4 separate regions of the Homo sapiens genome follow, and regions 1, 2 and 4 are each linked to region 3. The links come from fine-mapping of genetic effects on gene expression. A gene starts in region 3. Each other region holds a variant in brackets. All regions are shown on one strand. Distances are from middle to middle. Region 1 overlaps NPHP4 (nephrocystin 4). Region 2 overlaps NPHP4 (nephrocystin 4). Region 3 holds the start of NPHP4 (nephrocystin 4). Region 4 overlaps NPHP4 (nephrocystin 4).

What was found. PIP is the estimated chance that this variant, and not a neighbour inherited with it, causes the effect.
Region 1: its variant is the best candidate, but not a certain one, in a credible set for the expression of NPHP4 in skeletal muscle (GTEx, PIP 0.88).
Region 2: its variant is the best candidate, but not a certain one, in a credible set for the expression of NPHP4 in monocytes (BLUEPRINT, PIP 0.71).
Region 4: its variant is the best candidate, but not a certain one, in a credible set for the expression of NPHP4 in blood mononuclear cells (TOPMed, PIP 0.50).

What each region holds. Positions count from the first base shown.
Region 1 is chr1:5,933,014-5,940,183 of GRCh38, reverse strand. NPHP4 (nephrocystin 4) reads left to right here. Exons shown (of 30, transcript NM_015102.5): 10 at 6,855-7,037. Among named protein-coding and RNA genes, the nearest start is that of NPHP4, 56 kb to the left of the region's middle. RefSeq lists an enhancer at 93-593. The variant C/G (reference allele first, on the strand shown) is at 2,984.
Region 2 is chr1:5,909,460-5,916,629 of GRCh38, reverse strand. All of the region lies in intron 11 of NPHP4 (nephrocystin 4), which reads left to right. Among named protein-coding and RNA genes, the nearest start is that of MIR4689, 50 kb to the right of the region's middle. The variant TG/G (reference allele first, on the strand shown) is at 3,478.
Region 3 is chr1:5,989,008-5,996,177 of GRCh38, reverse strand. It overlaps NPHP4 (nephrocystin 4), which reads left to right and starts at 3,753. Exons shown (of 30, transcript NM_015102.5): 1 at 3,753-3,934. It also overlaps a transcript of KCNAB2 not described here. RefSeq lists enhancers at 2,404-2,453, 4,330-5,184 and silencers at 3,204-3,453, 3,534-3,713, 3,754-3,923, 4,074-4,253.
Region 4 is chr1:5,887,687-5,894,856 of GRCh38, reverse strand. NPHP4 (nephrocystin 4) reads left to right here. Exons shown (of 30, transcript NM_015102.5): 17 at 3,829-3,989. Among named protein-coding and RNA genes, the nearest start is that of MIR4689, 29 kb to the right of the region's middle. The variant G/A (reference allele first, on the strand shown) is at 3,338.

The DNA of each region.
Region 1 (7,170 bases), 56 kb after region 3:
CCTCTCATGAGGCTCCACCTCCCAGCCCTGGTTTGTTGGGGATTAAATTTCCAACACATGCCTTTTGGGGGACATGTTAAAATTATAGCACCCCAAATGTTACACTATCTTTTGATGAGCGGTAGTTCTGATTTTAAGTCTAGCTGGCCTACTTTTTCTTGCACGTGGGATGCTTTCTGCCTGTTCCAGGGCAGGCAGCTCTTCTCTGTCCCTCTGCTGGCCCCACCTCATCCTCTGTTGTCCTCTTCCCTCCTTCTGTGCCCTGGGGTCCTGGTGGGGGTGTGACTGTCAACTGCGTTGGGCTAACTTTTTTCCCTGCTGGTGGCCCGTAATGAAAGAAAGCTTCTTGCTCCCAAGTTCCTTAAATCCAAGCTCATAGACAACGCGGTCTCACAGCAGGCCTGGGGCCAGCCTCACGTGAGCCCCTTCCCTGGTGTAGTCACTGGCATGGGGGAATGGGATTTCCTGTTGCCCTACTGTGTGGCTGAGGTGGGGGTTGCTTCCTGGAGCCAGGCCTTGTGGAAGGGCAGTGCCCACTGCAGTGGATGCTGGGCCCTGAATCTGACCCCAGTGTTCATTGGCTCTGTGAGACCCAGTGAGGGCAGGGAGGGAAGTGGAGCTGGGGTGAGAAGTAGAGGCCCTGCAGGGCCCACGTGCCAGCCACCAGGCCTCAGACTAGGCTCAGATGACGGAGAGCTGCACACCTGCCCAACCCAGGCCCTGCAGTGCCCACATGCCAGCCGCTGGGGCCCAGACTTGCTCCAGAGGGCGGAGAGCTTTACACCGGCCCAACCCAGGCCATGGCTCCAAATGCGTGACAGTTTTGCTGTTGCTTCTTTTAGTCATTGTCAAGTTGATGCTTGTTTTGCAGAGGACCAAGGCTTTATGAACCTATTACCCTGTGTGAAGAGTTTCACCAGGTTATGGAAATTTCTTTAAAACCATACCACAGTTTTTTCATTATTCATGTATATTTTTAAAAATAATTACTGCACTCAGTAGAATAACATGAAAATGTTGCCTGTTAGCCCTTTTCCAGTTTGCCCCGAGAATACTGGGGGCACTTGTGGCTGCAATGTTTATCCTGCGGCAGCTTTGCCATGAAGTATCTCACTTTTATTATTATTTTTGCATTGCTCGAGTATATTGACTTTGGAAACAAAAGACATCATTCTATTTATAGCATTATGTTTTTAGTAGTGGTATTTCCATATACAAGATACAGTAATTTTCCGTCAATGAAAATGTCAAATTCTAGAAAATGTAACATTCCTATGCGTGGTGTTAACATCGTTCTCTAACAGTTGTTGGCCGAAGATTCGTTTGATGAATCCGATTTTTCCAAAATAGCCGATTCTGATGATTCAGACGATTCTGATGTTCTGTTTAGAAATAATTCCAAGAACAGTTTTTACATTTTATTTTCACATTGAAAATCAGTCAGATTTGCTTCAGCCTCAAAGAGCACGTTTATGTAAAATTAAATGAGTGCTGGCAGCCAGCTGCGCTTTGTTTTTCTAAATGGGAAAAGGGTTAAATTTCACTCAGCTTTTAAATGACAGCGCACAGCCTGTGTCATAGAGGGTTGGAGGAGATGACTTTAACTGCCTGTGGTTAGGATTCCTTTCCCCCAGGAATGTCTGGGAGCCACTGCCGGGTTTGCTGTCCGTCTCGTTTGGACTCAGTTCTGCATGTACTGGATCCGATTTGAGGACTGAGTAGCTTCTGGTTGATGGCATCTGGCTTGTGAACCTCCGCTGTTGCTGGCAGTGGCTGTGCTGCTGTTGTGACCTCTGGGCTCCTGGTTCTTCCTGCTGCTCAGCCAGGAGGTAGAGGCACCAACGCCAGCCTGGCTGCCTGCCACCCCCAGCTCTTCACCTGGTGGGGCTCAGTCTCTCTGGCCTTGTGAAGTTCGCCTCAAGGGCCAAGAGCTCCGTGTCCTTCAGGGAGAATGCCGGCCAGCGAGCGAGCCATCGGGAAGGACTTGCCCTCAGCCCGTGCCCTGAGCTCTGAGTTCCGGAGCCACCCGCCGCTTGTGTGCCCCACCTGTCATGCTGCTGGGGGACACCAGGCTCCACCTCCAAGGATGCTCCTGGGTCTGTGCCACCCGCCGTGTGCGGCTGGTTGCTCTGTTTCCTGCGCCTGTATGGTGGTCATTTCACAGGGTGGGAGCTGGTGCACAGGGTGGATGGTGCCTGCGAGGGGTCAGCCCTGTCCCTGCTGTGGCTCTCACACCACGTGAGTGTGACTGCGCGTGTTCCCAGCCCAGGGCCTGAGCTGCTTTCCTCACACTTATCTTAGGCCTCCCTGTCTCCTTCGTCTGCATAATTATAGACCTACATTTCTCTCTCTTTTTTCTTTATGTCCTCTGTGATTTGTGTGATACTAGGAACATTCAGAGATGTTTTGACGCAGTAGTTTGTCTTTTTAAAATTTGTCCTCAGCCAAGTGCCACATGTCACCTCCATCGAGGTGGCAGTTCCCCTGGGCCCAGCTCTCTATCTGGATAAGGCCTTGAGACAGTGGAGCGTGAGTGCGCTGCTTGGCGGGGACCCCACCCTGTCATTACCCAGAGAACGGCCGCCATCCCCTTCACTGTGCATTCCCAGTTCCTGGGGCTGGAGGTCCCAGCAGAACTGGGCCCAGGGCCAGAGGCTGGGTGCCTAGGCAAGAGTGAAAAGGTCTCACTGAAAATCTAAACAAAATGAAGCTCGTGAAGTAATGTGATGTTTTCACCTTCGTCTAAGTAAGTTCAGGTTGATCTGAGGACAGAAGCCATCAAGGGCCTGTATGACTTTCCAGTGGCTTCTGTAACAAAGTGTCACACCCTCCACAGCTCAAAGCAGCGGAAATGTGTGCTCTCACAGCTCTGAGGCCACAGGTCCACAATCTGCTCTGCTGGCAAACCCCAGGTGTGGTAGGGCTAAGTTTCTCCCCAGGAAACCCCAGGTGTGGTGGGGCCCAGCTCCTCCCCAGGAAACCC[C/G]TGGTGTGACAGAGCCGAGATCCTCCTCAGGCAAAGCTCAGGTGTGGCGGGCCGAGCTCCTTCCGAGGAAACCCCAGGTGTGGCAGGACTGAGTTCCTCCGGAGGTTCTGTGGGATGGGGCCTCCCTGCCTCTTGTGGGTTTTGGGGCTCCTAGCTGTCCTTGGCCTGTGGCCATATCACTCCGTTCTCCGCCCCCTCGTCATGTGGCCTCTTCTCTGTGTCTCCCTCTGTGTCTGTCTCTCTCTCCCCTGCTCCTACAGGGATGCTTGCCATTGGAGTTAGGGCCAGTCTAGATAATGAAGGATTATCTCATCCCACAACACTGTAACTAATCACATCCACAGAGACCCTTGTTTCCAACAAAGCCACAGCCACAGGTTCCGGGGATTAGGCTGAGAGCATCTTTTTGGAGGACACATTGAGCCCGCCACAGGGACTCTGGTTTGTAGCATTTCCAGAGGCCAAGGGCCTGTTTTCTGTGAGCGGCTTTGCGTGGTAAATGCAAGTGTGGCACTTCTGTTCCACAACAAAACCTGACTCATAATCCAAGTGTATTCCTCATTTGTCTTTTGTGTATTGTGTATTTTGTCTTTTGTGTATTTGTACTTGTGTATTTGGTGCTGTTATACTTAAAAAGTCTAAATGGGAGCAATTCGGTGTATTTGGGGCTTTTTTTTTCTTTTCAGTTTGTGTGAATTCAAACCCAAGTTGGGCAGGAAAAGGAATGATGAAGTAGTGGATGTCATCTCAAGCACTAGGATCCACTGGCTGTAGGAGCGTGTTAGACTCACTGTGACTCTGCTTGTGCTTGGCCTTCTCTGCAGAGCCAGGTGGTTTTCGGGCAGTTCCTGTCTGCCGGTCCCTCTGTGGGCTGGCAGTGAGCAAGTGTGGGCAAATACATGGCGACTGGCTTCCCACCAGGCCCCCATTCGCCTGTTGAGGTCTCAGAAAGAATGATCAATAATTGGCTACACAGATTTTTTGTTGTTGTTATTAAAGCTGTTAAACAGAAAAGTGAGGAAAAATGCATGTTTATGTAACTGACAGATACTTTGCACAGAGGAGATCATCTACTGATGGAGAACCAAAAAGAACTGTGAAATTGGAAAATTAGATATTGGAATCCCCTAAGTGGAAAATTAGAAGTTGTATAGATAGCATGAAAACGTAGATACATATTTTACTTTATTTTGTTTTTGATCCTGTAATAATACACTTCTGTATTTTATAATGATAACTGTTTACAAAAGTAGTCTAGACATTGTTGAATCCTTATAGTGACAAGTTTTCCTAATACATTTATAGTAATTTGATTTTTTTGTTGTTGAGATGGAGTCTCACTCTGTCGCCCAGGCTGGAGTGCAGTGGTGTGATCTTGGCTCCCTGCAACCTCCACCTTCTAGGTTCAAGCGATTCTCCTGCCTCAGCCTCCCGAGTAGCTGGGATTACAGGTGCCTACAACCATGCCCAGCTGATTTTTGTATTTTTACTAAAGATGGGGTTTCACCATGTCAGCCAGGGTGGTCTTGAACTCCTGACCTCAGGTGATCCACCCGCCTCGACCTCCCAAAGTGCTGGGATTACAGGCGTGAGCCACCGTGCCTGGCTGTAATTTGATTTTTAAAAAGCAGTGGAGTTATAATCACCATGTCGTTGGTATGCTATAGTTGCTCAGCACTGTTTTATAATCTGTTGTCAGCTAACTGGATGGGGAACAGGAAGACATTGTTTTTGTATTTGGCAAATGTTGAAAGTGTGGCTTAGAGTCATATGCTTCCATTTCTTACTTTTCTGATTCTATGTCCTTCCATGGTGTGGGTGTTTTCTCATTGAATTGCCAGGGACCACCCAAATCCCCGCTCACCCTGTGACGGGGGCGTGAATGTGGCAGTAACCTGGCCCATGATCTGGAATTTAGCTGCAGCAAAGGGCTCTGCAGAAGTGGATGGTTTGAAGTCCGATTGTGATGGGAAAAGAGATTAATGTGAAACAAGATGCCGATTCTAAATTTTTATTAGGATATAACAGGATGGGATATCATCTGGCAGGAACAGTCTGGAAGAGGCTAACTTGGAAGAAACAAGAACTGTTTTCTTTTCTGTATTCACATCTGCTTGTATATGAAGTTGGCTGTGGTTTAGCCCAGTAGAGACCATGGGGCCATCTGTGTCCGGATTTTAGAGGCCTTGAGAGCACGCATGCATGCGGGGATCTGTGTGGGACCTGAGTGCAGTCTGGGCAGTGACACTGGTGTGGCTGTTCCCCACTGGCATGTCCAGCCAAATAAGCAAAGTCCCTTAGGACCCCTGGCCACCACCACTGGAGTCTTGCCTCCTCCTTCGCTCCCAGGGCAGCGCAAATTCCTGGATCCTCTGGGTGTCTCTGTTCCTGGTGGATGCTGTGCTCCACCCATCCTAGGCAGGGCATGGGCGTCCATTCGTCACCAAGAGTGGGACGCGTCCTCCTTCCGGGCCACCTCCTCGCTGTGACCATGGCTGCGCTTGCGATGCTGCCTGGGTTCATGCCCTCAGGCAGCAGTGTTAAGAGGGATGCCCTTGGCTGCCTTAGCCAAGCCCGGGACTGGGAGCAGTGGGGAGCCACCCCATTTTACTTTTGTCACCCCTGAAGGGTGCAGCTGTCTCTGTTAGCCAGGGCTGGGGGGAAGCCGTAGCAAGTGGAGCACTGTAGGAAGTGGAGCACTGTGCTCATGGTCCAGTCACCACCTCCTGCTTGGGGGTTGTTTCTCCTGCGCATGGGACACAGAGGCTGGAAGTCCCAGGTGGAAGTGGACAGCTGCTCCTCCTTCCTCTGGGCTGTTCCGGTGGCTCTGGTCTAGGCAGCGCTCCGCAGCACTTACTGATCAGTGCAGCTGTGATCTTAGGAGTGGAAAGAGCTCTAACTGGGGCTCCTGGTCGGACCCGCTGTTGCCTGTACCCCATGGGCCTCTGGCTAATCGGCTTCCTGGTGACTTAAGTGTGCTCCACCCACCAGGGGAGCCTGCAGGATCTGCAGGCAGGGCCTTGGTTCAGAGCTGATCACCTCTGGAGTCCTCTTCAACAAGGTGGCTCTGCTGGACTTTGGGGTCCAAAAAAGACCGGGGTTTAGCTTTAGTCCTACTTCTTTTTAAGTAAATGGATGAAAGTTGGTAATTTTAAAACTCTTTACTCAGTCAAGCCGTGAAACCGTGTTTGTGACAATGACTTTAATGTGGTTGTAACCCAAGGGATTGGTTTTCACAGTGTCCTCATTCCTTCCATTTGGCCAGCCAGAGAGAAGCAGAAAGAAGGAACAATGCCTGGAATTTGACCCGATCGATTTCCCAATTTCCTGAAAGCTACAGATACGAAATGTGCTATTGTAAGCTGGAGCTTTGTGGAGAAAATGTGTGCTAATAATGCTGAGTTGAATATACATGTGCATTCTTCGTTATTTTACCAAATTTCTGATTAGGAATTCAAAGTGCTGTTCCTAGTATTTTCCTGACGGATTTGAGTTGGTGTTGGCAAGGTGCAGAGTGTTTACAAACCTATGGAAAGATCCTTATGGGAACAGGGGTTCATAAAACAGTGCTGGTCTCTAAGGGGGAAGCCATCACTACCTTGGGCCAGAAAAGGAGACTCATGGGTGGGCAGGGGTCCTGACTGGGTCGGTGGGGTCATGTAACTGAAGACTATCTGTGCCCTACTGTCTGCACTGTGGATGCCATGTCCTCCTCCTGCCCTAGTTCCTTTTATAAAATGCAACTGATGATCCCTGCCCCTTGCTACACTGAGCTCTCGTTGAATTTTACACATGAAAGCACTGTTGATTTCCCCTCTCCAGGTGACTTCTGTGATAACTCATACACCGATGTGCTTTGTTTTAATTCTAGGCAGCTTCGGTCACCTCTCTGTCCAACCTGGCATGCATGCACATGGTCCGCTGGGCTGTTTGGAACCCCTTGCTGGAAGCTGATTCTGGAAGGGTGACCCTGCCTCTGCAGGGTGGGATCCAGCCCAACCCCTCGCACTGTCTGGTCTACAAGGTACCCTCAGCCAGCATGAGCTCTGAAGAGGTAAATTATTAGGTATTTCTTATGCATCTCCGGTGAGCTTCTAGCAAGTTCATTCATTTTCAAAAGCAAAAGTTCACAAATATGTTTGCAGATGTTTCATTTACAGAATTTTTTTCATGTCATGGGTATGCCT
Region 2 (7,170 bases), 80 kb after region 3:
TGGTTACTGGAAGGACCAGGAGTTGAACGGTGGTGCAAATGAGCTGTAGCAGCATAATCTACTTCTCAGTCACTGTTTGGGGACCAGCAAATCTACATGGATGGACCCTGATTTCACTGAGTTTATTTAATTTGGATTTATGGCTGCATTCATGTCACATTAAATGATTACCTTCAGCCCAGGTTCCAAGCATTGGAAGACATTGCCTCTCAAAACCCAATGTAAGAGACTTTTAAATACCCACTAGTGTTTAACTTATGATGGAAACTTTTCATACTTCAGTATTTCACCAACTTATATGGTTCCTTTGGAGATCTTAATGATATGCGGCTGTCACTTTAAGTGAGGTACTTTGGCTCTCGGTTATGAATAATCCTTTTTATTTTCTCTGTAACATTGCAAGGGAGCAAAGTTTCATTCATCACTTACCACAGAAGAGTGTGCATTGAGCCGCTAGAGGGCACTCAGTCTTTATTTTTTTGTAACTTGGAATTTCCCTGACCTATATTTTGCTTTTGAATGTTCCTCTGGTGGTGTCAGAATTTTGGTTTGTTTGCTTAATAGATTTGAAAACAGCCATGTAGAAGGGGTCATTGCAAACATGTAATTGTGGTGTTTCCCAGGACACGTGGAGTTAGATTCCTGCCCCGTGGTGCCTGCTGTGCTGCTAGCTGGTCTGGAACATCCTCTCCGACAGACAGCAGCTCCCTTGTCCTGGGTGAGGGTGGTTCAGTCAATCACATGGTGGTGGGGGAGAGTCTAAGGCCATGGAGCAGCTTTTTGGCCACCCTCCAACCACGGAATGGAAGTTCGTGTGCAGGTGGTAAGGGTGCATTTTGCTGGAGAATTAGTGGGACAGTGGGTCAGAGCAAGGCTTTGACAAGGGAGGTGACACTTCTGAAACTGACCCTGGAGGTGACCCCAGCTCAGGGCTCTGGCAAGTCACGGAACTCCCCACTCGGCTTGGGCCTGCTGAACCAGCTCCTGTTCTGGGCTGCCTGCGATCTGGACTCCTGCAGTCCTGGGCTGCCTGGGATCTGGACTCCTGCAGCACAGAGTCCTGTGCTCACTCATCATCCAGTTGCCCCTTGATCTCTGCTTAGGTTTTGTTCATTTTCCCATTCCTGTTTTCAAACTCTTAGGAACAATGACTTTTTACCTACAAATAGTTAGGAATAAAGGCCTTTCAAGTGGGTTTGCCATGTGAATTCTTAGTGTCTAGAGTACCACTAGATACTGACTCATCCTTTATTTTCACGGCCTGATGAAAGGAAGCTACTTTTTGCAACCCTTCTTCAAACCCCAGAGACTGCATCTTTACTAGCGATGGTCCTTCCTTTCCCCTGCCTTTTGGGGCCATCTGTTTACCCCTGTTTGTAACAGGGCCACAGTCTACCCCCAAGGCCCAAGGCCCAAGGCCCAAGGCCTGGCCCGTCCCTGCCTTCCACCAGCTGCCATGAGTTGCTAAGCAACAGCCTCTGCGTGCTGCCCCCTCTCCCTCCTCCCTCAGGACTTCTCTCTCCCACGGAATTGCTGACCCCATAGGTAAATGCAGGCAGCTTTGCTCAGCTGGGCAGTTGCTCAGCGAAATGAGCATTTTCCTCTGTTAGGACCCCTCATCCAGCCCTCTGCTGACCCCTGTTTGCTCAGTGGCAGGCTGGCAGCACAGCTAGGCCCAGGAGGACAGGTGCGTTTCAGGGTGCGGGGGGGAGGTCTACCTGGCACCTGCTGGGGCAGTCGGGCCACAGGGGACTGGTGCTGTGGGGACCGCATTCACGACCCCGTTCACATTTCCAGAAAGGACACGTTGGCCTCCATGCATGTGTCCTGATGTTGAGAGGCCCCTGCTCCCTTCAGCCTAGGAAGACATCTCAATGAAGACCACAGCCCCGTCCTCCACTGAGCTGTTTCCTTATCTTCATTTCTTTCTGTGGTCCTGTCATAGCGCAGGCATCTGATAAAATGTTTGTTGGAAAATGAATCTATGGACGTGGGAAAGTAAAGGTGGTGAAAACATGTCCTTCCTTTCCCCTTGCTTCTATTTTCACTTTTTAATTGGCAATGCGCATGCATATTGAAAAGTTATGTGGCTTGAGGCGACAGATAGCTGCTCAGTGAAACCCTAGGTCAGGACATGGACACCGCAGCCTGGCAGTGCCGGGACTCCCTTGTGTAGTCAGTACTTTTTATTTTTTTGAGAGAAGATCTCACTCTGTTGTCCAGGCTGGAGTGCAATGGCGTAGTCACGGCTCACTGTGGCTTCCACCTTCCAGGCCCAAGTGATCTTCCCACTTCTGCCTCCCATGTAGCTGGGACCACAGGTGCATGCCACCACACCAGGCCTTTTTTTTTTTTTTTTTTTTTTTTTTTTTGTATAGATAAGATTTTGCCATGTTGCCCAGGCTAATCTCGAACTTCTGGACTCAAAACAGTCCTCCTGCCTTGGCCTCCCAAAGTGCTGGGATTATAGGCATGAGCTACCATGTCCAGCTGGTAGTCAGTACTTTTAATCTGTCTGGTGAGGTGACGCTGGAAGTGAGAGAGGGTTGTTGGTGGGGAGGCCGCCTCCTGCCCCAGCCCTATCCCTGTTCATGTCCTGGCCCGCGTGCGTGATGAAGAAGCGAAGCCCAGTGTACTTACTTTGCGGGGAGCTGCGTGCCTGGCGGCCATGGGGTTGGCTGGAGAGCTCCTTCCTCTGTTCTGGGCTGTGATGTTAGTGGTATTATTACTCTGGGTAACAATGTTCTTTTCTGTTCTCTGCGTTATGTATAGAATGATCTCCTTCGGGGTGGAGGAAGGAGGAATTCTGGGGAATATTGTCCCTGTGAGTATATTTGAGCATTATTTGTTCACTGTACAACTTCTGCAGTTCAACTCACCCACAGTGCTGAGAGCCATGGGCTTGAGGGCATGCCTGTCTCTCTTGCGTGTGGAATGTGTGTGGGTTGCATCCTCTTGCAGGGCCCCCTCCAGGCGAGTGCAGAGGCAGTGTGAAGACGTTGGCAGTGACCAGGTGGGATGCGTGGCCTCCCGGGGTTGGGATCAGAGTGCAGGCCCTGCCTTGCCTCCTGAGGCCTGTGCTGTAGTTGAGTGCAGGGCTTTTGAGTTTCTTGAAGCTAAATTGACAGAAAAGTAGACATTTGAGATTTTGTTGACTGTGGTTTTCAGCAAGTGGAGACTGATTGGAGAGTGATAGAGCGTCAGGGAAAAGGAATCTTCAGAGAGGTGGAGAAACCTGCCGTGGTGGGAAGTCTAAGTTTTTCTTTGTCTCTAGCAATCCATGTGGACCATTTCTGGATCACAGTTGGTTCTGGTGTCCTGGGAAACCAGTGACTTAGTCTCTTCCTGCTCTTCTCAGATCTGGCTCTGGGCCAGAGGTGTGTGCTGGCAACCCCATCTCAGGGCCCCGCTGGCCACGAGCTTCTTGGAGCAGCCGTGGAAGAGCTGAGTCTCTGTGCTTTTTTTTTTTTTTTTTTT[TG/G]AGATGGAGTCTCACTCTTTTTGCCCAGGTTGGAGTGCAGTGGCGCGATCTCTGCTCATTGCAACCTCCGCCTCCTGGGTTCAAGCAATTCTTCTGCCTCAGCCTCCCGAGTAGCTAGGATTACAGGCGCGTGCCACCATGTCTGGCTAATTTTTGTATTTTTAGTAGAGACGGGGCTTCACCACGTTGGCCAGGCTCTGTGCTCTTCTTCTTAACGCCAGGTTATTTCCCTGAAACCAGGGTCCTGTGGTGGCTCAGCCAGACGCTGATTCCCCTCCCAGTGAGGGAGCCCAGGCCTCTGCCGCAGGGGTGAGAACGGAGGGGCTCCGTGTTGGGAGAGGCACCTGGTCATGCTGCTTGCCGTGGAGGTCTCAGCTTTCCATTCTGTGCTGACTGTGTTACTACTTCAGGCTCCATCAGGGACCTACAGGTGTGTCTTATAATGACTGTTAAACTAACATTTAATTTACTTTAAGTTTTATGGGCAATGTAGGAATACGCGTTTCCTAGCATGTCTCATGGGTGTGGTTACCACGAGTTTGCCAGCACACCCGTATACACTGTGGGTTTCTTTCATTTTTCTTTTTTCTTTTTTCTTTTTTTTTTTTTTTTTTGAGACGGAGTCTCACTGTGTTGCCCAGGCTGGAGTGCAGTGGCGCGATCTCGGCTCACCGAAAGCTCCGCCTCCCGGGTTCACGCCATTCTCCTGCCTCAGCCTCCTGAGTAGCTGGGACTACAGGTGCCCACCACCATACCCGGCTAATTTTTTGTATTTTTAGTAGAGATGGGGTTTCACCGTGTTAGCCAGGATGGTCTCGATCTCCTGACCTTGTGATCCACCCGCCTCGGCCTCCCAAAGTGCTGGGATTACAGGCGTGAGCCACCGTGCCCGGCCTATCGTCACTTTTTAACTTGCCGCGGCTGCCTTCCCAGTTCTGCACACACCGGCTGGTCTCCTCCCATCCCATTGCTCCCCTGCCCCACGCAGGATCTGCCGGGTTCTGCTGAGGTAGCTTCCATTTGCAGGAGCACCAGGATTGTGTCTAATGTTTTGCTGTTGTCGCAGCGCTGCCCCAGACAGCCTTGTGCTCGTCTGTCTGCTCACCGCAGCTGCTCCTACCTGTGTCCTGTGCACACGCATGCTGCTCCCGGTTCAGTTGCTGGCCCAGGTGCTTGTCAGCCAAGTCCTGTTATGTGGCGGAAGTCAGGCTTCCCAGACTCCACCGTGGTTTTTGGAAGACTCCTGGGGCCTGGAGTACAGCGGGTGCTCCCTGGCGGCCGCGCTGTCCTCTGGGCAGGACTATGAGTATAGTTTGGGAAGCACCTTAACCCATAACCACATCGAACATTAAAACAAAGAGATTCGAAACTGAGTTATTTCGTGGCCTTGGTGTGTCTCTTCCTGCTCTGCTTCACCGGTTGGATCTGAGTTTTGGGCCCTGGGGGTCTGGGCTTCCCACCAGGTATCTTTTTAAATGGCCACCTTTAATGGCCTTTTTAAATGGCCTTGTAGGTAGGTTTACTCTCTTGGAAGAAAAAATTGCATAAGTCATGATATAAAGAGTTACTTGAAAAAACTTTCCACACTGTATGCAAATTTGAGACGATGGGGAAATAAAATGCATGCGAGAAGTTCAGATGTGCTTGGAAGGTTTAACTTTTCATCCAGCTTTTCCTCCCCAAGAGGACGCACACAGGCACGGAGGGCTGGCCCCCGAGTGCCCGCTGTCTCTGCTGAAGATAATGGAGCCATTTCTGGCAATTTGTCCTCATTATCAAAATCAGCCTGCGGAGTTTTCCGAGTTCCCATTTACGGAGGAACGGCGTGGAGCTTCACTTACCACTCTGCTGTGTCATCTTTCAGGCTTTTTCTGGGAGGAGGTGGGCAGGGGTTTGCCGTACGGAGCTCTGAAATGGACTGTAAGAGGCACTCAGGGAATCTGGGGAGAGGCATCGGCTTTGAGGACAGCTGGGCCCCTGCAGAATCCTCATCTGCATTTTGCTTTTAGTGAGATGATATTTTCCTGGGGAAGCAGAGCTTGCTAGATCATTTGCTAACTCCCTCCGAGCACGTGAGCTCATTTATAGAAGGGCAGGTTCCTCTGACCAGAGTCTTTGTGCTCCTTGGAGCCACGTTACTGTGGCTGGTTACAGAGGAGCTGCGCGGGCCAAATGGGCGCTGCCCAGGAGGTAGTTGGACTGGGAGCTGTGCCCGCCAGGCTGGGCAGTTGGATCCTCTGAGGGTTGGGGGCTCCCTCTGGCCTTGCCCCAATGCCTTCCACCCATCCACAGGCCCTTAGCAGGGTTTCCACCAGATCCTGCAGCTGGGGAAGCACCTCCTTGGATGGGTTCTGGAAGCTGCTGGGAGAGGCACGGCGGGGATTGGCTCCGATGGTCGTGCAGCTCTGGTGTTAGGGCGGCACTTTCTGGATTTGGTTTCTCCTTGGTCGACAGCATTTTCCTTGTTGTTTTTGTTTTTTTGGGATTCAGAGCGGAACACGAAGTGGCTGAGCAGTCTCTATCCAGAGTGCCCAGCGTTTGACGTCACAGGCCTCTGTGCTGTGTGCTTGGTCCGTAGGTCCCGTAAGTGCCGGCCTGTGCTCTGTGCCATAGGAATTCAGGATACCAGGACATATAGGAGATTCGTTTGCCCAACCTTCATGGCAGCAGAGGCCACAGGAGAGGGAGGGAAGGCGAGCTGCTGGGCCCAAGATGTGGGCCACATGGGGGTGACGGGAGGTGGGACAGGGCCATGGGGGAAGCCTGATTTCTCCGGAGGTCTGGGTTATCCTGGAAGTCCGATGGGGAGTGGTAGTGTCTGCTGCAGTGGAGAGTCCTGTCACCGTGAAGGAGGCTGTCATGAGCCAGGTGGGGACAGGACATGGGCTGGAGACTGGGCTGTGGGCCTCAGGGAAGCCAGGCAGATGACTCAGTGTGCAGGGCTCCCACCCTGGCCTCTGAGTGGGCAGAGGTGGCCCCGTCAGGATGGGCTTGGGGTCTGGCTTGGTGGTTTCATGGTGGGCAAAGGCAAATGGCAGTGTATGTGAAATGACCGTAAGAGACGAGTGGCTATGGACGCTCCAGCACCGCTGTGGCAGGAGCCTGGTGGGTTTCAGAGACTCCAGCGATGCTGGGGCTTCCTCCTGCTGAGGTGCAGGGGCTGAGAGCCCTGGGTCTGCTGGGCCATGAGGTGTCCATGTGGCCTGGGGAGGGGTTGCAGAAGCAGCACAAATGCCAGCTGGGCTGAGGCGGGGCTGGGCAGGTACAGGTGGCCCTGGGAGGAGGCTGCTGGCTCTTTAGGCAGCCCCTGGATGCTTGGGAGGCAGCTGTGGCCTTATAAAGGGCCAAGGCAGTTCTCAGTCCCTGGCTCCAGGGGGACCCCATGAAGGGCTGGCCTTGCCTCCCCCAGGTGCGCCTCCCAGTGTTACCGGGCCTGCATGGAGAATCCTCAGCAGGACCTGGCGGACAGCTTGTGCTTAGTGGGTGTTCGTGAGGCCGCAAGCCAGGTTGGCAGTGTCTGCTCAGGAGCTTCTCGGTTAACAAAACAGCCGGAGTCAGGGAGCTGCAAGACTGGGGCAACCTCAGACCCCAGCTCTTCCGGGCAGGGAAGATGCAAAGATGACTAGTGAGGAGAAGCGTGTTAGGGAGCTCCAAGCACCCCAAGCTGTGAGACCTGCTGGCCCAGGAAGAAC
Region 3 (7,170 bases):
CCCAGTGTGCTCTCTCCTGGGGAAGAGGGTCCTGTTCCCTTTGCCTCCTCGGGACTGGCTGAGCGGAGATGGTGTATCCCTTAATAGACTCACCCGAAGATAGACCAGGAGGGGCCTGAACATGGCGGGTCACCCGTCACCAAGGAAAGAGCAGTGTGGGGCTTCCCACGCCACGACAAAGGAGTGCTTCCATATCCCCCAGGGTCTGGGCCTGGGCCTCCAGGGCCTCTTGGGAGACTCACTCCTGCAGAGGTGAGGATTTCAGGCATTCGATGGAGCTCAGGTGATGGCGGAGGGGGCACCTCTCACAGAGTTCTGGCAGGGCAGGAACAGAATCAAGGTTTCCTCACTAGCTGGGAGGCCAGGATCAGTTTCACTGCTGCTCTGTGCCTCAGTTTCCCTATCCAGCCTCCCTCACAGGGTTGTTTACAAGTGCCGGAGGCGAACTGAGGTCATGAGTGTAGTTCCAGTGTGGGGAGGGTCCCTCCTTTCCTTCATCCCACCACGGACCTGGTGCCCTCACTCTTCTCTAACTATGGGGCCATCTCTTTGAAGGCCACGAACAACAGTACCCTTGCACCAGGGCCTGCATGCCAGGCAGGACTGAGTCGCTGAGAAATCTCCATGGTAGTGGCACCTCCCAGTCCCAAAAGCCCCTCCAGTGACCTGGACACACCCAAGGGCACTGGCTGCGCCCATGAATGTCAGCAATGCCTCCAAGTGGCCTTCTGAAGGGACAGCCGGTCATGTCCTCGGGGTGCTGGCTTCCCCCAGCTCGGACAGCCAAGGCATGAACTGGGCTCAAATAAGTAGGAAGTAGGGGGTCCAACCCAGCTCCGTCACTGCCTCTGTTGACCCTGGAGAAGCCTGTCCTTCCGTTTAGTCCTCTGAGAGCAAGGATGACCGGCTGCTGGGTGCCAAGACCCAAGTCCTCCTGGTGGTGGGAGGGGGACTGGCGGGAACATGGGGTCTATGGCCCTAGACACCTCTGGCATCAATCCTTCTCGAATTGCCGCCCCGAGCTGCCCACTGTCCTGCCTCCTTATTCAGGGACGCCAGGAAAACATTCACTCTGGGACCTCTGGCGGCGTGAATATCACTGAGAACTTAGCCGAGGACCAGACACATACCGCACCTGGCCAGAGTCCCTGGAAACAGAAGCACGGTCCCCTGGTTCTCGCGAGGGAGCAGGCTCTCCTTCCACACAGATGATGTGTTCCCAGTTACCACGGCAGAGCACCAACACACAGGAAGGTCTAGGGGAGGCCCCTCCCTCCAAGCCCAGGCCGGAAACTGCCAAATCAAAACTGTGTGGCACTCGCTTCCTCCTGAACCATTTGGGTCTTAGAAGATGACTGAAAAATGAAAGCGAGGAAGCCTTCTCTAGCTGGCCAGCCCATGGCACCCTCGGCCTTTCCAGCTCTCTAGCGCCATGGCCCACGTCCCACCTCCCGGGTGCAATGGCTTCTGTGCACACTGCTTCCCATCCAGGCTCCAAATCCAGACCCAAGACGGTTCTCAACCAAGAAACACACGAAAAGGGTTTCACACTTTTTCACGACACCCCCCAACTCCAGTGCCTGGCTCAGCCCCCAGGTGTTGACTAGCACCTACAAAGCATTTGCTGACTGGCGCAGGGAAAAAAAAAATGGCCCTGGGTGTCAACAGGGAAGCCCCTACCATGCTGCTCTCGAGGGATGTGCTGCGGCCCGAACACTGTCAGTGCCACTGAGGCCGAGTGTGGCCGTGGAGACAATGACAGGACCTGGAGGACCAAGTGCACTCTTAGGGCCCCACACTGCGAGAGCACAGGGCCAGGAGCTGCACAGGGCTCTGCAGCAGACACGGCCGCCAGGCGAGAATCAGGTGGGCAGATGTGACTCTCCACACGTAGGTCCCCAAACCCTGCAACCTGCAACGCGGGGCCTGAATGCGGCTTCCTTAGCAGAGCAGGAGCTTACTCTTGGCACTGGGGGAAAGGGGAGGGGTGAGGCTGGGGTTTTTGTCGGGGAGGAGAAGTTGCAGAGAAAGAAAAAATCCTGAAACGACAGACAGTGGGACAGCTGTGGCCTGAACTTGGTGTTCTTGCTCCTCGGATGTGGATGTATTAATTTCCATAAATGCTAATAGCCCACTTCCCCAAGAGCTATTACTTATGTCATCTCCCCTTGGACACAGTTCAACACAGGGCAGACAAATGAAAGGGAGGAAAAGACAACCCCCAGTGGCGGTCCCCAGCTCCTCAGCCCCCTCCCAACCAGGCAGCTCAGGTCTGGTTCCTAAGGTGGCCCTGCTAACCGCAGGGTCAAGACCCCTGCCTTCAGCTCCGTAGCCAGGTCCCTATCACGACAGGAAGCAAGAAAGTTACCAACCCCAAAAATGCTGAATCACAAAGTGAGGCTGAGCAGGAAAGTGGGGGTGGGGAGGGAAGGAGACGGTGGCCAGGGAGGAAAGGTGCTAAGGGGCTTTCCACCTGGAGCACCCCGGGATGCTGCGGGCAAAGCACAGTCCCTGTAAGAGCCCCCAGGACAAATGCCAGGAGGAGGGACACCAGGATGCGGCTGGTTGGCGGGGTGGGAAGGTGGGCAGGTACCCCGGCTGCTGCTAATGCCGCAGGACGCGGTGCAGCAGTGGGGTCTTTGCATCCTGGGAGCAGCAGCAGGTAGGGAGGTGCGGAAGTGCTTTGTGCCAAGGCCTGGCAGGAGGGAGAAGCTTAAGATAGGAGTAGGGGCTCAGGGTCAGAAGTGGCGGTGTGTGTGCTGTAAACAGCCCGAGGAACTGGTGCAGGAAGCAGGGTCACAGTCTTGGGGAGCAGGGTAAGGTGGTGAGAGCGTGCCCGCGGGGAGAGGTCGGAGGGGCTGGGGGCAGAATGGGAGGGTGGGGAAAGGGACCGGAGCGACACAGGGACAGGCAGCGAGAACGACGGATGAGCCTTGAGAAGCGATCAGGAGGAGAGATGGGGAGGACCGGGAACAGCAGCGCCCCGGTGGGGCTGCGCAGAGGCCGGGAGAGGGGATGAGAGGAGGATGGAGGAAAGGGGAGGGCGAGGCTGCTAGGACCGGAGCGGGCAGAGATGGGGAAGAGGTGCACCGGGAAGAGGGACGGCGGCAGGGGCAGGGGTCAGGGATGCGAGCTGAAGGGTCGGGCGGGCGGGAGGACAGGGAAGGAAAGACAGAAAGGGATGGGGGAAGGGAGACGATGGAGAAGGAGGTGAGGAGGCTGGAGAGGAGGTGAGACAGCGGCGGAGGCAGGGACGCAGGGCCGGGGAAGAAGAGATGGAGACGGGACCGCGGCGCCTGCCGCAGCGCGGGCCTCGCGGATACCCGCCGCCGCCGTCCCGGAGCAGCTTGGTGGAAAGCGCGCCCCGCCGGGGTCTCCCCGGTACTCACCTGGGGGCTCCAGCTCCGGATCCTGTGCCCCGCGCCGGATCTTCCTTCCCGCCCTGCCCCTGCGACTTTAGCGCCCCCGAATCCCGCTAGCTCCTGCAGGTTCCGCCAGCAGCATCTTCACCTCGTGGGACGCCCGGGGCCACGCCTCTTCCAGCTTCTGATTGGCTATTGTTCACGCCAGTCACATTACCATTGGTTGAGGGGTCGTCGGACATGCAAATCAGGATGGGCCCGCCGCCGCACCGATTGGCTGGCGCTCGCAAAGCGCAGCCCTCGACTTGGGCTCTGATTGGCTCCGCGGCCCTGACGGCGACAGTGACGCGAGGCGGGTTCTTGGACTGAGTGTGCGGCGCGGTGCGCCGCCTTCCGAGGCTCCTCCCGCGGGTGGCAGCGGACGGGGCGCGCCCCTCGGCCAGTCCTCGGTCCTCAGGCTTGTGGCTCCGTTGAGCACCGGCCGCCGGGCCTCTGGGTCCGTCGAGTGGAGACTCTCTGAAAAGCGTGGGCTCCGTGGCCTCCGGCGCGGCCGCGGCGGGTCGGTCTCCTAGGTAACGCGGCCCGCGGCGGGCGGAACCATGTGGGCCGGCGCCGCGGGGGAGGTTGGACGCGGCCTCGAGGCACAGGGGGCCTCAGTGTTGGCCAGAGCCTCGGGGTTCGGGGGTAGGGTGGTCCACGCCGTCCCTGCGTGGGGGCCCGGTGCCTGGGGTGCGGCGGTGGCGCGCGGCGGGGGCTGTCCCCGCGTTAGTCGCAGGCGTCCCCCCTCGTCGGGACACTTGGGGTCGGGGCCGCTGGGTGCCGTTTGGCTACGTGGGTTCCTTTCTGCCCTTGCCCTTTGCCCCCTGCCCCCTGCCCCCTGCCCCCTGCCCCCTGGCCTCTCTGCAGCCCCTCGGCTGAAGGGAGCGCGGTACCGATGTTCTGGGCCTTGGCTCCCCGCGCCCTAGTCCGCGCGCATCCTTCCCAGGCCGGAGTCCGCGGACCCCGCCTGGCCGCGCCCCTCCGCCCCTCCTCCCCGCCCCCCGGCTCCAGCTCCGGCTCCGGCTGTCAGTTCCCCGCGGTGGCTCTGCGGCCTTCGGGCGTCCCTGCGAGGCTTTGTACCCGGCGCCGTCCCGGCCTTCTGCGCCCCTTTCCTGCCTTGGAACCTCCCGGCCGACCCGGCCCGGAAGGCGCCACCCGCTCCCGCGTGCCCTTCCCCACGCGTGCAGGCTGCTCCCGCCCGCCCCCGGGCTTGCAGGCACCTCGCTGCCCGAGATTCCTCGTGTCTAACTTCTTAGGAGACCGCTGCTTTCTGCCTCCGTGTGTCGCGATGTGTGGCTTTGGTGGACGTCTGTGAAGGAAATCCAGCCTCTCGCGTGTGTAGTTGGCAAAAGGAGGAGTATTTCTGTTGATGGTGGGCAGCGCCTCCCGGTCCTAACCCAGGGCTCCGTTCGTTGCACCTCCTCTGTGCAGTTTCCGTAGGTCACACTTGTGTCTTTTTGTATGCTAATTTGTGCCCCGTTTCTTTACATTCTATGGGGGTAGCGAGCTTGTCTGCTGTGTTCAAGACCGTTTCTCCCGGGCGCAGGGTAGGTGCTGAAAGAATGCTCATGAATGAGGGAATTCCAGGCAGTGCTTAATCAGACCTCTGCTTCCCCAAAAGCTCCCCAAGGCATCTGGGTCTCAGGCATTACACATTTTCCATTCCGGGAAGGAGGCTTCCCGGACCCTGACAGCGCCTCCCACCCCCTGCATCTTCCTTCAGCCCTGCTCACCTCTGCACCCTCCCGGGGGCCTGTTGCTGCTCACAGTCACTTTCTTGTCTTTCTCCCCCACTGGCTTTCTAGATGCTTGAAGACAGCACATTTGACAGCCTTCTTATGCACTGGAACACAAGTGCTCGGGAAATAGTTGCTGAATAGATCAGCAGAAGCAGAGATCTCAAGGAGATTTCACAGCTCTCATTTTGGAGGTTGGAAACAGGTGGGGAGGCTGCGAATCTGTCCTGAAGTTAAAGAGGAGACAGCATTAGCCCTGGGTTCCTTTGGTGCTCTTACTTTTTCCCTCTGGGCCTCTCTTCTCCCTTGGCCTCTCCTGGCCTCCTTGATTGAGGTAGTGGGAGGTAGTTATAATAGCTTACAGTATTATATCTATAATACTATTATAATAGCTAGTTATAATAGCTAGCTGTGTGACCTTGGATTGGCTGTTTATCCTTTCTGAGTCTCAGTGTTCTCATCTGTAAGATGGCGATAATGATGATTCTCATTTGGCAGAGTTGTTGGAATAGTAACCATAGAATGTGAGTTCCTGTCTTGCATCAGGGGCTCATTAAAAGTGGGTGTATTTTCTTCTTCTTCTTTTTTTTTTTCCCCTGGAGAGCCCACTGTACCCTTTTCTTGGGTTCAAGACCTGGAGCCTTCTCGATTTTCTCTTTTATTGTTGATTTGGCCCCAAAGGCCCCTCTGCACTTCCTCCAGGGCATTTGTATTTCATCCTTAAAAGACTTTTGCTGAAGACCCAGCCTGGTGTCATGGAGCTCACAGTCTCGCAGGACTACAGCACAGCCCTGGTGAAGCGTGGTGGCTCTTCTGTCACCTGCCCTGTGTGGGAGCAGCCGGAGGTGGGGGATGGGGCTCTCGCTCTGAGGAGGGAGCATTTGGTTTGACTCCTAGAGGCCAGAGCAGAGGTGGAAAGGAGCAAGGAGCAGGTGGAAGGGCACCCGGAGAGGTTTGTGAGGTGCTGGGATGGCAGTGAGAGCTGCTGCGGGCGCTTGGGCTCCCACCTGCAGAGTCTCAGGTGTCACCTCGGCCTCCGTGGCCCCTCAGACTAGGACTGCCCTGCCTCCACATCCCGAGCCTCAGGACTTCCGTGTGGGTGGCAGGTGCTTTCGGAATGGATGCCCTTCCGCCTAGTGTCTGCCCTCCTAGTACAGCAGGGGGCCGGCATGCTTCATGCTCCCTGTGAGGGTCGACTGGCGTATGCACGTCCTTCAGCAGTGTCCTTGGGCCAAGTGTGGCACTGAGTCCTGCAGACACCCAGGGAGAGGGCAGGAGGCACCGGGTCAGAAATCTGGGGCAGGTGAGGAGCATGGGCATCTGCGTCAGGAGAGACTTCCTCTCTGAAATCCCCACCTGGGGCCATCACGGCCTGCATTGTGTGTGAATACATTTCTGAATGTTATAAAACATCAGTGGGAAAGAAAAGCTTGAGGGTAGCTTTGCTAAAGCTTCTGTTTGGTTCCGTGACCATTTACTGAGTTGTGACGGTACCAAGAACACAGGAGGAATGAGGCTTCTTTCTTCAAGAACTTGGCCAGCGAGCAATTCAACACAAGATAGGTGACGAATGATGTGACCAAGGGAAGCACAGGGGCCATGTGAGCCTGGGGCCTGGACCCTGGGAGCACCTGGGAAGCCCTCCTGGGGGAGATGGCCCTTGAGCTGGTATTGGTCAGGTGTCTTCTGCTTATAAGTCGTGGACAGCTGTATGATTTCCTGTGGCTCCTGTAAGAAAGTCCCACAGACTTGGTTGCTTAAAAGTAGCACAAATTTGTTCTTTTCCAGTTAGGCCGGTCAGAAGTCCAAAGTCGGCTCTCCCTGTGGTGGCTCCTGGGGCTCTGGGCTGGCATGGTGTGGGCAGTTGTGGGCATTGGAGGAGAGACATCCTGGGCTCAAGTCTCCCGGGGAAGACTGATGGCTCAGTGTGGGCCATGTGTTCCTCCTTGAAGCAATCACTGCAGTCTCTGGCTGGAATCGGGGAGCAGCTCTCCCCATACATGGAATTGGGTCAGGGTCCTCCACAAAACAAG
Region 4 (7,170 bases), 100 kb after region 3:
TCCATCTGTTCATTTCTACTGTGTGTCTTTCTGAAGAATTTTAAAGTTTATGTCATATGGGTTTTGCTATTGTTTTGTTTTCTAATTGATTAAATTTTGTGTTTATCTTTACCGTCCCCTCATTTCTCCTTGATTTTTGGTATTCTTTACTATCTTCCTATTTTTTTTTTGAGCTGCTTAATTCATTTATCTTAATTCTTTTGTTTGTGTGGATATACCAGGATTCAAGGCTATGAATTTTCCTGTGATTACTGCCTTAAGATTGTTGATACTGATAAGTAGTATTTTCATTATTATTATTGTTTCCAGAAAATCTTTTTTGATTGTGTTTTCCCTTTGACAGAAAGTTATTTATGAGTAAGTTGCAAATTTGTTTCTTAAAAAATTTTACCTTTTTTTTTTTTTTTGAGACTGGGTCTTGCTCTGTAGCCCAGGCTGGAATGCAGTGGCGTGATCTCAGCTTACTTCAACCTGCACCTCCTGGGTTCAAGTGATGGGCCTCAGTCTCATGAGTAGCTGGGGCTACAGGCATGCACCACTATGCCTGGGCAGTTTTTGTGTTTTTTGTAGAGATAGGGTTTCACCATGTTGCTCAGGCTGGCATATTAATTTCTAGTTTATTGCATTATGTTAAGAGAATATTATTTGTAGTATTTCTACTTTATGGAGTGCAGTTTTTTGTGGCCTGTGGGTGGCAAGCCAACCAGGTGCTGAGGCAAGAGAACGAGGACATGAGCTGTTCCAGTATAATAAAATATAAAACAAGAATAGTTATACCAGATATAGATCTTAGATGTGTTTATATATGAGTATCATTAATCATTAGTTTGTAGCAATTACTCTGTATTCCAATATTATAATAATCCTCGCTCTACGGTCATAACCTAGGAAAAACCAGGCCATACAGAGATAGGAGCTGAGGGGACACAGTGAGAAGTGACCAGAAGACAAGAGTGTGAGCCTTCTGTTATGCCCAGACAGGGCCACCAGAGGGCTCCTTGATCTAGAGGTAATGCCAGCGTCTGGGAAGACGCCCGTTGCCAGGCGGACCATGGTCTAGCGGTAGCGAAAAGTGTCAAGGAACAACACCCGCTACTTAGCAGACCGGGAAAGGGAGTCTCTCTTTCCCCGGGGGAGTTTAGAGAAGACTCTGCTCCTCCATCTCTTGTGGAGGGCCTGACATCAGTCATGCTCGCCTGCAGTTATCCGGAGGCCTAACCGTCTCCCTGTGATGCTGTGCTTCAGTGGTCACGCTCCTAGTCCGCCTTCATGTTCCATCCTGTCCACCTGGCTCTGCCTTCTAGATAGCAGGAGCAAAATTAGTGAAAGTACTAAAAGTCTCTGATATGCAGAAATAATGGTGTAAGCTGTCTTTCTCTTTGTCTCCTCTCTCTCTCTGCCTGGGCTGCCAGGCAGGAAAGGTCCCCCTGTCCAGTGGACACGTGACCCGCGTGACCTTACCTATCATTGGAGATGACTCACACACTTTACCCTGCCCCTTTTGCTTTGTATCCAATAAATAACAGCGCAACCAGACATTCGGGGCCACTACCGGTCTCTGCGCATTGGTGGTAGTGGTCCCCTGGGCCCAGCTGTCTTTTCTTTTATCTCTTTGTCTTGTGTCTTTATTTCTACACTCTCTCGTTGCCGCACACGGGGAGAGACCCACCGACCCTGTGAGGCTGGTCCCCACAGTGGCCTAATACATGGTTCGTTTTTATTAATGTTCCAAATACACTTGAAAAGTTGTTTTTTCTGTCACTGGGGTGCTGCGTTAAGGTCGATCCCTGCACCCCACACCCCTGCCACCGTGGGAGTTGGCCACTCTGCTCTTCTAGATTGTCACTCATTCATCGTTGCCTGGATCTGCCTTTGAATGGAGAGTGGTTAGTTTCTACCATTACTGTGTTTTCTGTTTCCTCAACCCCAGAAGCAGTGAGGATTCCAGCCGGGCTGGGGCGTGGTGTTTGTGAAGGGGGTGCAGGAGGTGGGCTTGGGGAGGACAGGGCCACTGCCCCTGGGAGTCTTCTTAGTTCAGTTGGAGGCCAGCTTCCTGGACTTCTGAGTGGGATGGAAATGACACAGGGTGGACTGTGGGGAGCTTGGACCTCAGGGGTGGCCACGGAGGAGCCACTTGTCTCAGCTGGACAGGGAGGGGAGAGGTCTGAGGCTGCAGTGGGGAGAGTACGCGCGTCCCAAACACAGCTCGACCCAGTGGGACCCTCTGTCTTGTCTCCTGGGGAGCTCCTTCCAGTGCCCCGCTGGACCGGCCCCCATTCTGTCACCACTATACCCCAGCACTGCCAGGGCCTTTCAATGCTACCATTAATTCACTTACTCAGCAAACAAATAACTGCGCCCCCACCATGTGGGAGGCCCTGCACAGGGTAGTGCTGGGAGAACTGGACAAGCAGGGCCCCACCCTTAAGGAGCTCTGGGTTTCAAAACAGGGAGACACTGATCCCAGAGCTGACAGCATGCTGAGAGCTCCTGGAGTGGGGGGCAGGAGCATGCTAGGCACGGGGCCATCCTGGTCTAGGCTCCTCTGACCAGCCTCCCAACTCTCACCCACTGTCCGACAAGCCCCAGTGGGATGATCCCGGTACCTCAGTTGGAAATGCAGAAATCACCCATCTTCTGCGTCGCTCATGCTGGGAGCTCTCACTAGATGCCACAGTCCAGGCAGGGGTGGGGGCTGTGTGGCTGGTCACCTCTGAGGTGCCACACTGGGGACATGCCTGCCCTTGCGTGATGTTAATCACCAGCTCCTCCTTGGTCTTCCTCCAGATTCCTTATTTGCCTTTCTGCCCCAAGATGCCCCCGTGAGCTCCTGCTGTGGCCAGCGCCGGGCCTGAGCAGTGGGTCCTTGCTCCACCCCCTTGGGGCCCACCCTGGGCCCTGCACTCTTCGCTCCCCCTAGGTCCCCTGTCCGGACACATTGTGCTTACTCCTTGTCCTCTGGTCTTGAGAAACGCAGATGGAATGTGGTCTGTGGTCATCCTGTGGGGCTGGAGCCTGGGTGGAGAGGACCTGTGGCCAAATTTCAGCCTGGCTTGGGGCCTGGCACTGGAGGTGCTGAGTAAACCTTCGCTCCTTCCTCTGCTCGTTGGGGGCTGTGGGAATGTTGTCACCATTATTGATAGAAAGAGAAATAATGTTGTTTTGAAATGCTTCTCACCATTGCTGTTCCTCGAATTTTAACTAAGGATGGTTTGAATGGCATTTTTGTCAATTTAGAATTAATGATAATGTCACTTCAAGAAGATGAAGGCAGGGGCCGCAGTCCAGTTCCCATCTCTTAGCCTGATGACCAGGGCAGACCGCACGGGAGGAGCCC[G/A]GGATACCCACGGGGCAGGTGCCGTCCTGCTTTAGGGCCAGGAGAGGGGCTGCTGGGTGTCCCACACATCATTCTAAGCCTGATCTCGGTTTGAGCTCTGCCTGTGTGTGTGAACATGCCAGTTTTGACAGCAGATGTAGACTACATTTTTTCTTAAATTCTACACGCCCAGAATAATAAACTCCCTAGCCAGCCTCATAAGGACATTTGTTCCCATCCATCTTAGGCTGTTACAAGGACTTGGTGAAACCATAAATCTTATTTTGGGAGGAGTTTATTGTTTCTATGCGAAAGAAATGTAGTCTTCTGAACATGACTCTTCATTCTGTTAATTTGAATATTTTATGATGTTTTTGATTAATGTGTTTATTAACTGTAGCTATGACAGAAGCAGAAATTAGTAATCATGACCAGAGCTGAAATCTCTTCCAAGTGTAAAGATGATGAATGACTCCAATTACTTTTGGCCTCCTTTGGTGCCTCTTTGACAGGGTCTCCTGGCTTCCAGCTGAGGTACATGGTGGGCCCTGGGTTCCTGAAGCCAGGTGAGCGGCGCTGCTTTGCCCGCTACCTGGCCGTGCAGACCCTGCAGATTGACGTCTGGGACGGAGACTCCCTGCTGCTCATCGGATCTGCTGCCGTCCAGATGAAGGTAGCGGCTCTCTGGAAGGACAGGCACAGTGGGTGCTGCGTCCCTCATGGGACGAGTCACGCTTCCAGCGTCTGTCTGCTTGGAAGGAGCGGGCGCTATCCCGCACAGGACTTGTTTGACCTTCTTTGTTCACTCGTTAAAAATAGTGCTGCATTCTCTGTTTCTTGAAAGGAAAAGATTTTTCACTGTCTGAATTCTATAATGCTAGTTGTTTGCTCAAGAAACTCTTAAGATCAAACTCAGTTATCTATTTCTCCTGCAAACTGACCTACCAGGCAGTGTCACTTCATCTCCTCCCATGTGGTGAATGTGGTGAGGGCAGGTGCATCCGAGGTGGGTTGAGGATGAATGAATGGATACGCGAATGACTGGGGTGTGCAGTGTGACCTGATTCCTAAGGTCAGTGACGTGTTGTTCTTTTCTCATTCTGGTGAAAATTAGAATCTCTTTTACTAATTGTCCTTTTCCATTCTCCTTGTATACTAAAACCTAAATCCATGGATTCTTTCACTCGTCTTCCCTGGAATTCTTCCCAAGCCTTCTCCATTGTATGAAGGGGACCCCATGACAACTCTTGGGCCAAGGACTGGGGCCAGTTTCACACGCTACCATGGTGTCCTGAGACTTCTCTCAGGCCACGGGACGGAGCTGGGAGAGGATGTGGCGTCATTATTGCAGCCCCTGAGTCTCTGAGATTTCCCCACTTTTCTTGAGTGCCGCATAGCTGCTTTCCTCCTGGATTCCTGACACGGCTGAACCCCCGGGGCTTCCTGTCCTCTCCAGCAGCTGCTGACCCCTGAGAAGCACGGCTCCTCTGCTCCTTCAGCTGCGCTGTGCTCTCGGGGTGGGGGGATGGGGTATGGGAGTTTTTCCAGCTGCTCTTCCTCTGAGGCATGGTCTGCTCTTGGCTCCCCGTGTGACCGACTGATCCAGGCTCCATCCCTGCTCCCTGTGACTTCTAGAGGAGGGGGATGCCCCCCAGGGTGGTGGGCTGTGCACAGAACGTTCAGGGTGGGGTCTGCAGGTGGCAGGGACTCCGCAGGGCTTGGCTGCTCTTCTCATGCCTCACCCTGGGCCTCTGTTCCTGTTGGGGTCATGGCAAGGGCCCCACAGGGTCATCGTGGCCCTTGCTTGTCCGTCTCCCATGCTGGCTTTGATGTCCCCAGGGCAGGACTGTGTGTCGACACCACAGCATCTCTAGCACAGGCCTCAGCCCCAGCAGGCTCTGCATGGTGGGGAGGCGTAAAGGAGGCAGGCGGTGTGGGAGGCAGAGCCGGGTCCCGCTGGGCATGTGTGGGGTGGCAGTGGCTCCCCTGTCGTGCCCAGCCGAGCCTTGTGCCCCCTCTTTGCTGTGCCACCTGGAGACGGAAGCCATTTGATCTCCCCCTACACGAAGAGCCCCTTAAACAAGTGCCGTTACGCTTGTTGACATAGACTTGAATAAATTAAATTTAAAGCTTCACTTTTCTAAAATAAAATCTTGTAACTTTAAAACTTAGGTAGAAAACGTGAAAAACTGAGATGATCAGAGAGAATCCTCTGGACTCCAGATCCTGGGAGAGTTAGGTTGCTCCGGTTAGCCTTTGGTGGACTTACTTTCTGCAGGCGGGGCCAGCTTTCATCTTGTTTGAGCTCTTGCTGTTGCGGGTCACTACAGTGGCTTTTCCTTCTGCTAATCACTGCTGTGGACTTCTTGAAGTTCAATTTTACCCCCATCTTCTAGTTGATTTCCTGGGGGTGCTGGCCGTAACACGTTGCTACGACGATGAGAAGAGTTTCCTCTAGGGACGGACGGCTCCTGTGCTGCCTTCAGTGTGACCCCTAGCCCAGCCCTGGGGCAGTTCTGTTTTTATCCTTGTTTCTGGTGGAGAAAACAGAGGCCCAGGGTCACACTGATGATCATCAGGGCAGAGTCTTAGCCTAATTCTGTCTCCGGGGCTTGTGCTATTTACCATCCTCTTCTCCCTAATGACATGTTCCCGGAAGTAGAATTCTGATGGTGCCACCGTGAGGGCCGCAGGCATGCAGAGCCAGATGGGGGTTTGGCCCGAAGGCTCAGCCAGGCCTGCACTTCCTGAAGACAGAGGGCACTGTGTCCCATGTCCTTGGCTTCACAGTGTGTCAGCCTTTAAACCAGTCGCCAGTGGCCATTTTGATAATGATTTGGGAGGAAAATGGTGCCTTGTTTTCATTCGCATTTCCTTGCCTCTTGGAGAAGCTGACATGGTTTCTTGTATTTGTTGGCTGTTCCCTAAAGGAGACTTCTCATATCTTCTCAGTCTCCCAGTGACTGAGGTTCCGGAATCATCGATGTCTATGCAGTGATCGTATGCAGTGTAGACGAGTGTGGCAAAGCGACCAGGGTCTGCGGCGACCGGAAGCCCCCAGACCCACAAGGGAAGGGTCAGGTCTGGCGTCTCACTCCCAGAGACAGGCACTTTTGTTGCTGTAGAAACTGGAGAATTACAAAATCCGGAACCTCATCTGCTCCCACACTGCTTCTTATGTGAGAGGAAGCACCAGAGCAGAGAGGGCACGGGGGAAGAGTGTCCCAGCCACGCCTGGGGCACAGCCGTGAGGCCGTTGTCATCCCCCACATGCCTCACAGTGTTGGCGTTCGGGCAGAGTGCTGAGCCGTGGAATCTGATCAGCAGAAGAGCCCGTGGTCAGGAAAGTCCTGCTGAGGCCCTGCTGGGTCTGAGGCTTCCTGCTCCCACCCTGCCCCGAGCAGCCTCGGCCTGGCATGCAGAACTGGGCCAAACCCCAGCCCAGGGCTCCCGGCGGGCCTCTCGTGCCCCATGGCCCCTCCCTGGGCCCCACGGGCCTCTACCCCAGCCATGCTTCCTGGCCCAGGGAAACGGGGGAGGCATTGTACCCTGTACCCTGTGCCCTGTGCCCTTGGCCTGGCCTGCCTCCCCGGCCTTCTCTGCCTCCCCTGCCCTCTCTGTGCATGGCCTGTCTTCCTCCTGGAGTCCCATTGGGGTTTCCGTCCTGGATTCCTCGCTGTCCCAGACACGCTTGGCTAAGAGTCCTTTGCGTTGCTTGGCTGCCCTCTTTCCTGCTCTTGCTTCCTGTGGAGGGGAGGATCCTCCAGGGCAGCTGCCAGACCCACTTATGCCTTCCCAGGGCCCAGTGGTATTTATTCAGTGGGTAAATCCAGTCATACTTTACTTAAGACTTT